Homo sapiens: one gene and its partner. The protein of the gene in region 1 interacts with the protein of each later gene in a pairwise test. Each region holds a gene or a part of one and is shown on either strand. Other genes may lie near its edges. The genes, in order: LAYN and MFSD11.

Region 1 (4,821 bases):
TTAAAATGCAGGGTAAGACTGGCTGTGTACAAACACAGAAGAGATCTCTAGGTCCCAGAAGAGACAACACATTAATGAAAAAAGGGAAGGGAAGATGCTGAGGGTCTGTTCTGATTACAACCTTACTCCCTTTATAGATTAACAGTGGGTCCTCAGTTCAAGCATGAGTGACATAAAGTAAGTTGTTAGCACAATTCACCAGCATCTGTTTACTTGTTACTATGCTTCCTTCTTGGGAGGCATTCCAATTACAATGACTCAGTTACCTCCTCCACCTAGGGGGACTGTGAAAAACAAACTTTTAAGCTGAAATATTCAAACTATTTGACATCAGTCTGAAAAGATGCATTGTTCATCCATTCAATAGACATTGATTGCCTACCCTGCAAGGTGCTGCCATGGGTTGCAGGACCCATGATGCTGACCGGCAGATAGGATTCCTACTAGCGAAGCTTGCAGTGTAATAAGGGCCAGAGTTGTGGGGCACAGTGCAGGATACAGGGCAGATGATAGAGCGAGGCTGTCTGAAGCAAGAATGGAACCTTGGGCATTTTAGAGCAGTGAATCAGTCCTTCAGGACCATGTGCTCAGTTTTTGCTTGAAATGTAACCACAAAACACACTTCCCAAAACAGGGAGTTTTGTTTCCTAGTATATTCAGTTCTGCAGTAGGGCAGATAATTTGGCAGGGATTCCAATCCACTACATTCGATACTGCTTTGACCCAGACTAGTTAACTCTAGAGGTTGGGGCTCCATATGTGAAGCAAAGTTGCTGAGCTATTAAAAAATAAGACATATGAGGAAAGGTTAAAATATGAGATTATGAAGCTGATTGAGGGAAATTGCTGGTGATTTAAATAATGGCTTTCAGACCTCCAATGTGTATATGATTGATGCTGGGCTGAGAAACTTTTCTCTGAATTTGAGGCCAAACACAATTGAAACAATGAGGTCTGTCAACAAAAGGTAGAACTGTCATCATTATTAGTCATGTTATGTTGATGCTGCAGTAACAAACATGCAAACAGAACAACGTGTAGTATCAGGGATGGGAGTACATAAGCCTAGAAGCTGAGACTCAAATTTCATTTTTAGTTTCTTTAAAAAATATTTTTGTTTAGAGACAGGGTCTCATTCTGTTGCCCACGCAGGAGAGCAGTGGCGTGATCCTAGCTCACTGCAGCCTCAACCTCCTGGGCTCAAGCAATTCCCCCACCTCGGCCTCCTGAGTAGCTGGGACTGCAGGCGCATGCCACCATGCCCTGCTAATTTTTAAATTTTTTGTAGAGTCAGAGTCTCACTATTTTGCCCAGGAAGGTCTGGAACTCCTGAACTCAAGCTATCCTCCAATCTTGGTCTCCCAAGGTTCTGGGATTACAGGCGTCAGCCACTGCGCCTGGCCTCATTTTTAGTTTTGCAAGTAGTTAGATATTTCCAAGTCTGGATGTCAGGAGAAACAAAAAAAGGTCCCCTGTGGCCACATGCAGAGGAAGGGCTGTAGACACAGACTAACACTCTGTTTCCTGCTCTTTATTTGATTTTATTATTCTTTGAAAAAAACAGATATGAGAATTGCCGATGCACAGGCCAGCCTGTGCTACCATATGTGGGCTTTGAAAAGATTCTGGATTTTCTGTCTGTATGATAATATGTGCTGCTGTATAGAGCAAGGAAAACAGAGGTGGTTTTCCAAGCTCCACAGCCCATCTTTATCACTGCCAGGTAAAGCTCTGTCCCTTAAAAGTTAGATACAACCAACCAAGTGACATTTATTGAGACTCTACTATGTGCCAGACCTGGGCAAGGTACCTTCTCATAAGGTCGAGCTGGATGACTGGCTGGGATAAAGGATACAGCCAAAACGTGGGGGTCCAACAGGAGGTCGTGGGGACCACATGCTCATCCACAGGACCTGATCTAAGCTTGTTCATAGACCTTCTGTGTATTTTCCTTATAGAAAATAAGAGGATTTTGCTTATCATTTCTTTTCCATTGTTGTCAGTTTCAGTTTTTTATATGTCCTAATAACCATATATTTCATTTTCCACCCATCCAGACTCCTTACTCCTCCCCATTTGGTCTGGGGAGAACTCATAAATGTCATTGGTCACAAATCCACTCTCCACGCTCACCAGAGTCACAAACCCACTTTCTGATGGGTTCACAGCCATGTTGTCATAGTCACAAGACATGTCATCGGGAGTGGCTTCTCCCGAACACACTCGGAATGAAATATTCTTCAGGTCTGGCCGGGTCTCAGCTAAGTCAGCTTCGCTTTGTTTTCTTATGACATTGTAGACCTCTAGGTCCGGGCTGTTTCCCTGGTGAGGAGAGGGCCAGATGGTGTGTTGCTTCTTTGTGCTAGGGTCTGGCTGCTCCCGTTTTCTAGGAAGAAAGAAAACCAGGGCTGAGTGTTTTAGACCAGGTGATTGAGAATACCCTTGTGCTTCCTGTTGAGACGAGAGGAAGCAGCCCTGGGCAGTCACCCAGCTGCATGTCTCGTCTATGTAACTTACAGGCCAGGGCTTCGGAGTGGGAGGGAACCAAACAGGGAGATGTTATGTTCAAAGTGATTGTGTATCTGTCATTCACTGCTGCCCAAGTGTGGGCAGGGTTATTATCCTGGGGTTCCCTAGAGTCCCTGGAGTGTCCAGGGATAGAACTGAATAGAGAAAAAATACCACATTACAAAAAAAACCCAAAAAAACAAAAAAACACCTCAGCTGTGCACAGTGGCCCACGCCTGTAATCCTAACACTTTGGGAGGCTGAGGCAGGTGGATCACTTGAGCCCAGGAGTTTGAGACCAGCCTGGGCAACATGTTAAAACCCCGTCCCTATAAAAGATACAAAAATTAACCAGGCATGGTGGTGCACACCTGCAGTCCCAGCTAGTTGGGAGGCTGAGGTGGGAGGATAACCTGGGAGGTCAAGGCCGCAGTGAGCTGTGATGGTACCGCTGCACTCCAGCTTGGGCGACAGAGTGAGACCCTGTCTCAAAAATAAAATAAAATAAAATAAAATAATAAAATAAAATAAAATAAAACCAAAACAACAAAAAACACGACTCATCCATAAGTGAAATTTAGCATGTCCTTCCATTATGAATGTAAGAGATAAAACAGCAGGATTAATATCTTTGACTTGATCACTACTAGAAATTATAGATGTTTTCATATCACAGTTATAGATGCCTTGAAATATTTTAACCTCATCTCTACTTCAAAATTATAATAATTATACCCAGCACTAAATAAAGAAGCATTAATAAAGGAGTACATGTATTACTAATCACATATTCATTTTTGGAAATATTTTGCTAAACTATATAACAGTATGATTGCTTCCTTTGCAACCCAATGTATTTTATTTTATGCATTTAAAATATTGTACTGGGCCGGGTGTGGTGGCTCATGCCTGTAATCCTAGCACTTAGGGCAGCTGAGGTGGGCGGATCACCTGAGGTCAGGAGTTCGAGACCAGCCTGGCCAACATGGTGAAACCCATCTCTACTAAAAATACAAAATTAGCCAGGCATGGTGGTATGTGCCTGTAATCCCGGCTACTTGGGAGGCTGAGGCACGAGAATCACTTGAACCCGGGAGGCGGAGGTTGCAGTGAGCCGAGATTGCGCCATTGCACTCCAGCCTGGGCGACAGAGAAAGACTCTGTCTCAAATATATATATATATATATATTTTTTTAAATAAAATAATAAATAAAATAAAATATTGTTCTGGAAGGAGTCCATAGGCCTCACCAGACTGCTGCAGGGCACAAAAAAGATTAAAAACCCTTGGGATAGACAGACACCCCAGCTTTAGAGTCACAATTCCCAAATCCTGTTAAAGTACAAAACAGAGAGTCAGGAAAGGAAATCAAGAACCAACTGAGTAGGCAGAGTAGGCAGCTGGAAAATATGCCTGTAATTTTTTGAACTAAATTCTACTTTAAGATTCAAAGGAAATAACTAATAAAATAATCCCAATAATAGGTAACATTCAAGTGCTTAGTATATACTTATTCTGCAAGTATTAACTGCCTTAATCCTTATAATAATCCTACAAGGAAGTTACAATTAACTGAAATAGATTTTACATTGGAATCTTACTAATTCATCTCAAATTGGTCTTTAAAGGGAGTCAAATCTTAAATTGGGCCTTAGTTTTCCTGTTGTAAATGGGAATACTAGACATCTTCTCCATATACCATGATGATGGAGAATAAAAAGGTAACTGAGAAGAGCTTTCAGTACTAAAAATAAAATAAAATAAAATAAAATAGTGGCACACGATCCTGACCATATACAGAAATTGTTGATGCCACCTAGTGTAGCTATTTTATAGCACTCTATACTTGTGTACTGAATTAAAAGAAAAGTCAGTTAAAAGGAATTTGGCTCTTTCAGTTTGAATTAAGTGGTTTAGTTTCAGATGTTTACCAGAATACTTTGCAGCAGTCATTTTTCATATGGCTCACTATTCATTCCTTCACTCAGTCCACAAACATTTTCAGAGTGAGGGCATACATTCATGAGAGCATTTTTGCTGGGTGACGTGTGAGTGCACGGGAGGTGAATAATGCAATTTCACCCTTCAAGTTGTTTTAAAATCTTCCACGTACAGACAGTAAAGCAAGTAAGATCACTCTCTTAATCACAACTAAGCACAAATGCCTAGTACTTCTGAATGCCCTGACCTGTCAGAGAACCCACTCTCCAATCTGCAATGGTGATACTCTTGGTGCTGCCGTGGGTTTTAATGAAGTAAACAAGGCAATATCCAAATCTCAAAGAGAGCAGAAGATGCAAAGGTTTACACAA
Region 2 (7,295 bases), on another chromosome or scaffold:
TCTGTGAGGCCTTTAGGTGGGAACCTTTAAAACAGAATTCTACTTATACCCTCAACAGCTTCTAATCACACTAAGAAGAAAACACAAACCTCCTATCTTGGCTTACATAATCTGACCCTGTCTACTGCTTCCACTTCTTCCTTCTTGGAGACCAGAGCCCACCACGCCCTTCCCACTGCCTGGCTTTGGCAAAGGCCACCCGCTGACCTTCATGTCTCACCAGCCACGTCTCAGGGAGCCACCCCACTCTCCCCCCTCCCCCCCACTCTCCCCCTCTTTCACAGTCTTCCTAACACTCACTTTGCTATTTTCTTACACGTGCATTGTCTACCACCCCCTCTAAAATTAAGTCCCGTAAGAACAAGGACTTATCTGTCTTGTTCACGCCTATATCCCTCAGGCATAGAAGAGGGCTGCCACAAGTCTGTGCTATTTGTAGAACAAAGACACAGAAGCTCCAAATTTAGGAGACGATTCAGGAAGAGAGAATGCTACAAAGGCTGAGCAGTATTTCTAGAAGAACGCCAGCTCACAGTTACAGAACCCCTCATCCACCTCCCCAACTTGGCAGTTCCTTAAAAACAGGGATGGGCGGCATTTGTCCTCTAGGACCAACACCAAACATGTGCTGGCTGAATGGGGGGGTCAGTTTTCATTGAATTTGTGGTATTCACTTTCACAGACTCCTTCTCCAGTAACTACTGGTTTGTGCTTTAAAACAAAATGTTTTGCCAGGCGCGGTGGCTCACGCCTGTAATCCCAGCACTTTGGGAGGCCAAGGCGGGTGGATCACGAGGTCAGGAGTTCGAGACCAGCCTGCCCAACATAGTGAAGCCCCGTCTCTACTAAAAATACAAAAATTAGCTGGGTATGGTGGCATGTGCCTGTAGTCCCAGCTACTCGGGAGGCTGAGGCGGAAGAATCACTTGAACCTGGGAAGCAGAGGTTGCAGTGAGCCAAGACTACGCCATTGCACTCCAGCCTGGGTGAAAAAGTGAGACTCCATCTCAAAAAAAAAAAAAGTTTCACCATGTTGCCCCGTCTGGTCTCAAACTCCTAAGCCCAAACAATCCACCTGCCTCAGCCTCCCAAAGTGCTGGGATTACAGGCGTGAGCCACTGTACCCAGCCCCAGGCACAGATGTTCTTAATGTGACCTACCTAGAATGATGACTCCTTCTCAAAAGGTTTACAATTTACTTTGCTTAGATCTGAAGAATCATTATCTATGGCAGCTATATCCTCATGAAATGTATTTCTTAAATAATAAGACTTGAAAGTTGAAATTAGCCAGGCATGGTGGTGCACGCCTGTAATGCCAGTTACTGAGGAGGCTGAGGCAGGAGGAATCTCTTGAACCCGGGAGGCAGAGGTTGCAGTGAGCCGAGATCCCGCCACTGCACTCCAGCCTGGGTGACAGAGCAAGACTTTGTCTCAAAAAAAAAAAAATGGAAATTACTCCTTGATCCAGGGGCTGCAGAACACATGTTGTTAGAAGGCATGAAAACAACATTCATCTCCTTGTACACCTCCAACAAAGCACTTGGCTGATCAGGTACATTGTCAATAAGCAGTAATATTTTGAGAGGAACCTTTTCTTCTGAGCAGTAGGTCTCAACAGTGGGCTTAAAATAGTCAATAAGCCATGCCGTAAACAAATGTGCTACCATCCAGGCTTTGTCACTGCATTTCTAGAGCCCAGGCAGAGTAGATTAAGCATGATTCTTAAGGGTCATAGGGTTTCTGGAATGGTAAATGAGCACTGGCTTCAACTTCAAGTCATTAGCTGCATTATCCCCTAACAAGAGTCGGCCTGTTCTTTGAAGGTTTAAAGCCCGGCATTAACTTCTCTCTAGCTATAAAATTCCTAGATGGCATCTTTTAATGTAAGACTGTTTGGTCTACATTGAAAACCTGTTGTTTAGTGCAGCTACGTTTGTCAATTATAATGGCCAGATCTTCTGGATAACTTGCTGCAGCTTCTCCAGCAGCACTTGCTGTTTCACCTTGCACTTTTATGTCATGGAGATGGTTTCTTTCCTTGATCCTCACGAACCAACCTCTGCTAGCTTCAAATTTTTCTTCTAAAGATTCCTCACGTCTCTCAGCCTTCACAGAATTGAAGAGAGGGACTTGCTCTGGATTAGGCTTCAGAGAATGTTGTGGCTGGGTTGATCTTCTATCCAGACCACTAAAACTTTCTCCGTATCAGCAATAAGGCTGTTTCACTTTCTTATCATTCGTGTGTTCCCTGGAGTAGCTCTTTTGAGTCCCTTCAAAAACTTTTCCTTTGCATTCACAACTTGGCTGTTTGGCACAAGAGGCATAGCTTTCAGCCTGTCTCAGCTTTCTACATGTCTTCCTTGCTAAGCTTAGTCATTTCTTGATTAGTCATTAGCCGGGTGTGGTGGTGCATGCCTGTAATCCCAGCTACTTGGGAGGCTGAGGCAGAGGCTGCAGTGAGCCGAGATCATGCCACTGCACTCCAGCTTGGGTGACAGAGCGAGACTCCGTCTCAAAAAATAAATAAATAAATAAATAAATAAATAAGTAAATAATAAAGTGAGAGACATGCATGTCTTCCTTTCACTTTAACACATAGAGGCTATTGTAGGGTCATTAACTGGCCTAATTTCAATATTGCTGTGTCTCAGGAGAAGAGGGAGGGAGATGGGGGATGGCCTGCAGTGGAACAGTCAGAACACACACAACATTTATCAATTAAGTTCACCACCTTATATGGATCTGGTTTGTGGTGCCCCAAAACAATTGCAATAGTAACATCAAAGATTACCGATCACATCTTATAACAGATGTCATAAGAATGAAATGTTTGAAGTATTGTGAGAATTACCAAAATGTGACAGAGAGACACAAAGTGACCACACGCTGTTGGAAAAGTGGTATGGAGAGAAAGACTTACTCGATGCAGGGTTGCCACAAGCCTTCAATTTGTAAAAAACCCAGTGTCTGTGAAGCACAATAAAGAGCAAGAAAGCAGGGCATGGCAGCATATCCAGACCAAAGCGCTGCCTTGCTTCTGCTTTACACAAACTTACTGCAAATCTGGAGCATCTAATGCTCCTATGACTGGACAATTTTAGGCCCTTTCTGGATTACAAAGTCAGCATGGGATGCTCAATGCGAAAGTTTTAACAATATATAAAATGCTATAAGGCAATCTTCACAATGTATCACAAACAAAGCAAAACAAGGGTGGCAGAGATTAATTTCTCATCTCTCCTTCCTCAAATCTAAATGATACTGCAGATCACTAGCCTGTCATGCTTAAATAGTGTCACCTGAAACTGAAATGTGCTTAGGTAATTTACAATTTTTACAAAACACAGGGTTGTATACTCATTCCCCTATTTGGACCACTCTGGGGAAAACCGCCTATGTAAGTTAGTGCAAGAGCCGGACACCATAAGCAAGAGCCTAGTGATAACCAAGGTTCATCTGTGACAACCATCACTGGCCCTGCCACTCACTCACACCACAAGAACAGGAAAGCTTTAGAGCTGGATCACAGAAACAGTAACCAAGGTCAACACTGCCTTCTATTTCCTTGCCCATGGAAACATATGGATTGAGTGAGAAAGCTGAGGCCTGGAGACATGAAAGGAATTGCTGCCACTGTCCAGGGTCACACACATCAGTGGCAAGGCCAGGAACAGACTCAACTTCCCTGTGCACCTTTTCACCACCTCCCTTCCTCTGGTGACCTTTTTTTTCTTCCTCCCTCGCAGCTCCTCCTTTATTTTCTTCCTTTTCTTGCCTGTGGTAACCTACAGAGAGTACTGGACATCAGTTAGGGCTAAACGGGTTGGTAATCTCTAGACTAGATCTACTCAAAATCTATTTTAAAATAAAATAGAATGTTTCCAACATCTTACTCGTTGACTTCCATGTCCTGGTCATCAGAAGACTCATCTTCTCCTAGGACATTTTCAGAATCTGGTTTCCGAATGAGAAAGAATAGAACTGTCCCCACAAGGCTAATCACCGTTAGGGCAATAAACACTGTTCTTCGGTCACTCTCTACGGAGAAAAAAGAAGAAACAAGATAGTATCGACCAAACAATTCCAGAATTAGTATCACGGTACAAGGGCTGCTTACAACTGTCAACACACTTCCTCGTTACATTTTTACTTTAATGCATCAGTAAAAACCTAGGAAAAGGAGACAAATAGGATACCTTCACCTTTGTCTTTCAGTTAGAGAAATATGAATAAGCCAAAGAAAAACAGCACAAGGGCTTAATCGCCTTCTTTTAATCAAAGAAGGGTCCAGAGAAAACAACTGAGCATTCAGAAGTCTTCTGAGAACCACATACTCGTGCGCAGTATTCTCGTAAGCTCGTGCACAGCATAACCTTCCCTTAGACCCTGAGAAGCCCCTTAAAGCATAGTCATAAACTATAATCCTAGTTTAGTAATAGAAACCAGGCTGGGAGGGATGGCTCAGGCCTGTAATACCACCAATTTGGGAGGCTGAGGAGGGCGGATCACCTGAGGTCAGGAGTTTGAGACCAGCCTGAACAACATGGAGAAACCCATCTCTACTAAAAATACAAAATTAGCTGGGCGTGGTGGTGCAGGCCTGTAATCCCAGCTACTTGGGAGGCTGAAGCAGGAGAACTGTTTGAACCCGGGAGGCGGAGGTTGCGGTGAGCCAAGATGGCACCATTGCATTCCAGCCTGGGTAACAAGAGTGAAACTCCATCTCAAAATAATAATAATAATATAAACCAAGGAAAAGTCTTACTAAAAGCTAAAATCTGCGAGAACTTGAGGTGTCGGGGTTCATGAGAACGATGCTTGAATAAAGCAATAATGGGTATTTCTATATAACTCCTATTATGCTTTGAACATATCTGAATAAAGCAACGCGAATAAAACAAACCTGATATCTGAGTTTTCCCTTGCCAGGCAAAATATATGTAGAGATTTCCAAAGAACAAGCTGGGGGAAGAAAAGGGAGGATAGGATGTTGGGTAATTATTTTAATATTTATAGTTTTTTAAAAATAATTATTCCCATTATTTGTTGTAAGAGAGGGAGAGAGAAGGACATCATTTTTAAAGTATCTACCTGTCCTGGGTCATTTAAAAGTATCAGCTTCATCTGGACTCTGATAAACTTAACTGCCCCAGATGGAATTCAGTCTCCTTCCATGTGACAGTAACCTGATTCAGAGGCACCCTTCAAAGAAGAATTGACTCACTTTGAAACATGTGATTTATTGCAACTCTGGAAATGACTCCCTGGAAATAAGCTTAAGCTAAATTTTAAAGAATCTGTTTCTAAAAATCCATGATTTAGTTATCTGCATCTAATCAAATACTTTCTTTAGCATACTTTCCTGAAAAATCATTCACTTACACACTAGTTTCTTAATATACAACTCTTTAAAATGTAACATTTGCATTTGTTAAGCCTTGTCAAGGCCAAAATTTTAGGCGCGATTCATGAGGGTGATTCCTCAGAAGAGATTCCAGAAATCCAACAGTCAAGAGCAGAATAGCTGTTTTGCTTTCTTCTTAAGAAAAATGTTAAGGCCAGGCACGGTGGTTCACGCCTGTAATCCCAACACTCTGGGAGCCCAAGGCGGGCGGATCACAAGGTCAGGAGTTCGAGACCAGCCTGGCCAACATAGTGAAACTCCGTCTCTACTAAAAATACAAAAAAAATTAGCCGGGCGTGGTGGTGGGCGCCTGTAATCCCAGCTACTCAGGAGGCTAAGGCAGGAGAATTGCTTGAATCCAGGAGGCAGAGCTTGCAGTAAGCCGAGATCGTGCCATTGCACTCCAGCCCAGGTGACAGTGTGAGACACCGTCTCATTTAAAAAAAAAAAAAAAGTTAGTATGCTATATTCAGTATTGGTATAAATAGTCCTGAGTAGCTAGTGAGCCACCATACTCAGCCATTATTACAAGTGATTCTATAAAATTGGAATCACGTCACATTTAGCTAGAACTTAAGTCACGTAACATGGAAGATCCAAATTGTCAACCAAAGACCTAAAAAATGGTATGACAGAAAAAAAAGAAAGAAAAGGAAAGACTGAACCTCAAAAGGATAATTACCTAGACTGCAGAAGTGCCCAGAAAATCCCACTGTTTCTCCCAATGCTGTGCTCATCCGAATTGATTGTCAGGCAGTTTCCTTGTGCTGTCCAAAGCACTAAAATTCAACCCAAAAGTTTATCAAGGGAAAGAAATTCACTTAGAGTCACATACTAAACACATAAATAATACCCTTAGATAGGCCCCAGAAAAGAAAGCAGAGAAGTTAAAAATCAAAATGCTTACCAGCAGCAGCAATTCCAATGAAAACAGAGGCTGTGTAGAAGGACCACGGGAAAGGCTGGATGAAAACGGCAATGTACATGCTAAAATATAACAGGTCAAGGTATTACAGTCAAACGATACCTGAAATAGAATGCCAATTATGCCTTCTAGGAATCAGTTCTGACATTCTCTTCTTTTAAAACTCAACCTGTAAAGGATCGCTCCAGTTTTGAAAAAAGGGACACAATCAACTTTCTCATTTCTTAATTAATTAATTTTTTTGAGACAGGGTCTCACTCCATTGCCTAGGCTGGAGTGCAGTGGTACCATCACAGCTCACTGCAACCTCCACCTCCTGGGCTCAAGCCATCCTCCCACCTCAGCCTCCTAAGTAGCTGGGACTACAGGCATGTGCCACCAAGCCCGGCTAATTTTTTTTTATTTTTGGTAGAGACAAGGGTTTCACCATGTTGCCCAGGCTGGTCTCGAACTCCTGGACCCAAGTGATCCTTGGCTCAAGCAATACCTCGGCCTCCCAAAGTGTTGGGATTTACAGGTGTGAGCCACTGTGCCTGGCCCATAATTTATTATTTCAGATTTGCAAAATCAGACATTTTACAGGTTTGCAGTGTTCTTTGCCAAAAGCTTAGCACATCATGGAACTATAGTTCTAGAGTTCAGAGAAAGATTTAGTTATTTCATTTGAATCCCCACATATTTTCAGTCAATTGACAGAAAATAAGATTATTTCATAGAATGTTCTTTTCAACCCTCATAGAGACTTTTGGATACTATTTTTATTAACAATAAAACAAAAGCAGATATAGATACATCCTATCACATTAGAATATGATATCCCTGAGCAACAAGTACTGAGCCAAAATTCGTAAAATACCACCTATATTCTATTCAGTCCAAGTCTATAAATTATTGTGAAGTTTACTATCTACTTGAAAGATCCTGACAAGTGTTCTGATTAAATAAGTGCAAGATTACACTACTT

What was found.
Region 2: the proteins of LAYN (region 1) and MFSD11 interact in binary tests that used the Homo sapiens proteins (3 or more experiments, as listed by UniProt).

What each region holds. Positions count from the first base shown.
Region 1 is NC_000011.10:111,557,660-111,562,480, reverse strand, and holds the end of LAYN (layilin isoform 2 precursor), read right to left. Parts: intron 2,387-4,821; coding exon 2,023-2,386; 3' UTR 736-2,022; downstream 1-735. UniProt on the Homo sapiens protein: Receptor for hyaluronate.
Region 2 is NC_000017.11:76,741,067-76,748,361, reverse strand, and holds part of MFSD11 (UNC93-like protein MFSD11), read right to left. Parts: intron 6,434-7,295; exon of another isoform or gene 6,394-6,433; coding exon 6,314-6,393; intron 6,186-6,313; coding exon 6,089-6,185; intron 4,965-6,088; coding exon 4,906-4,964; intron 4,041-4,905; coding exon 3,896-4,040; intron 1-3,895.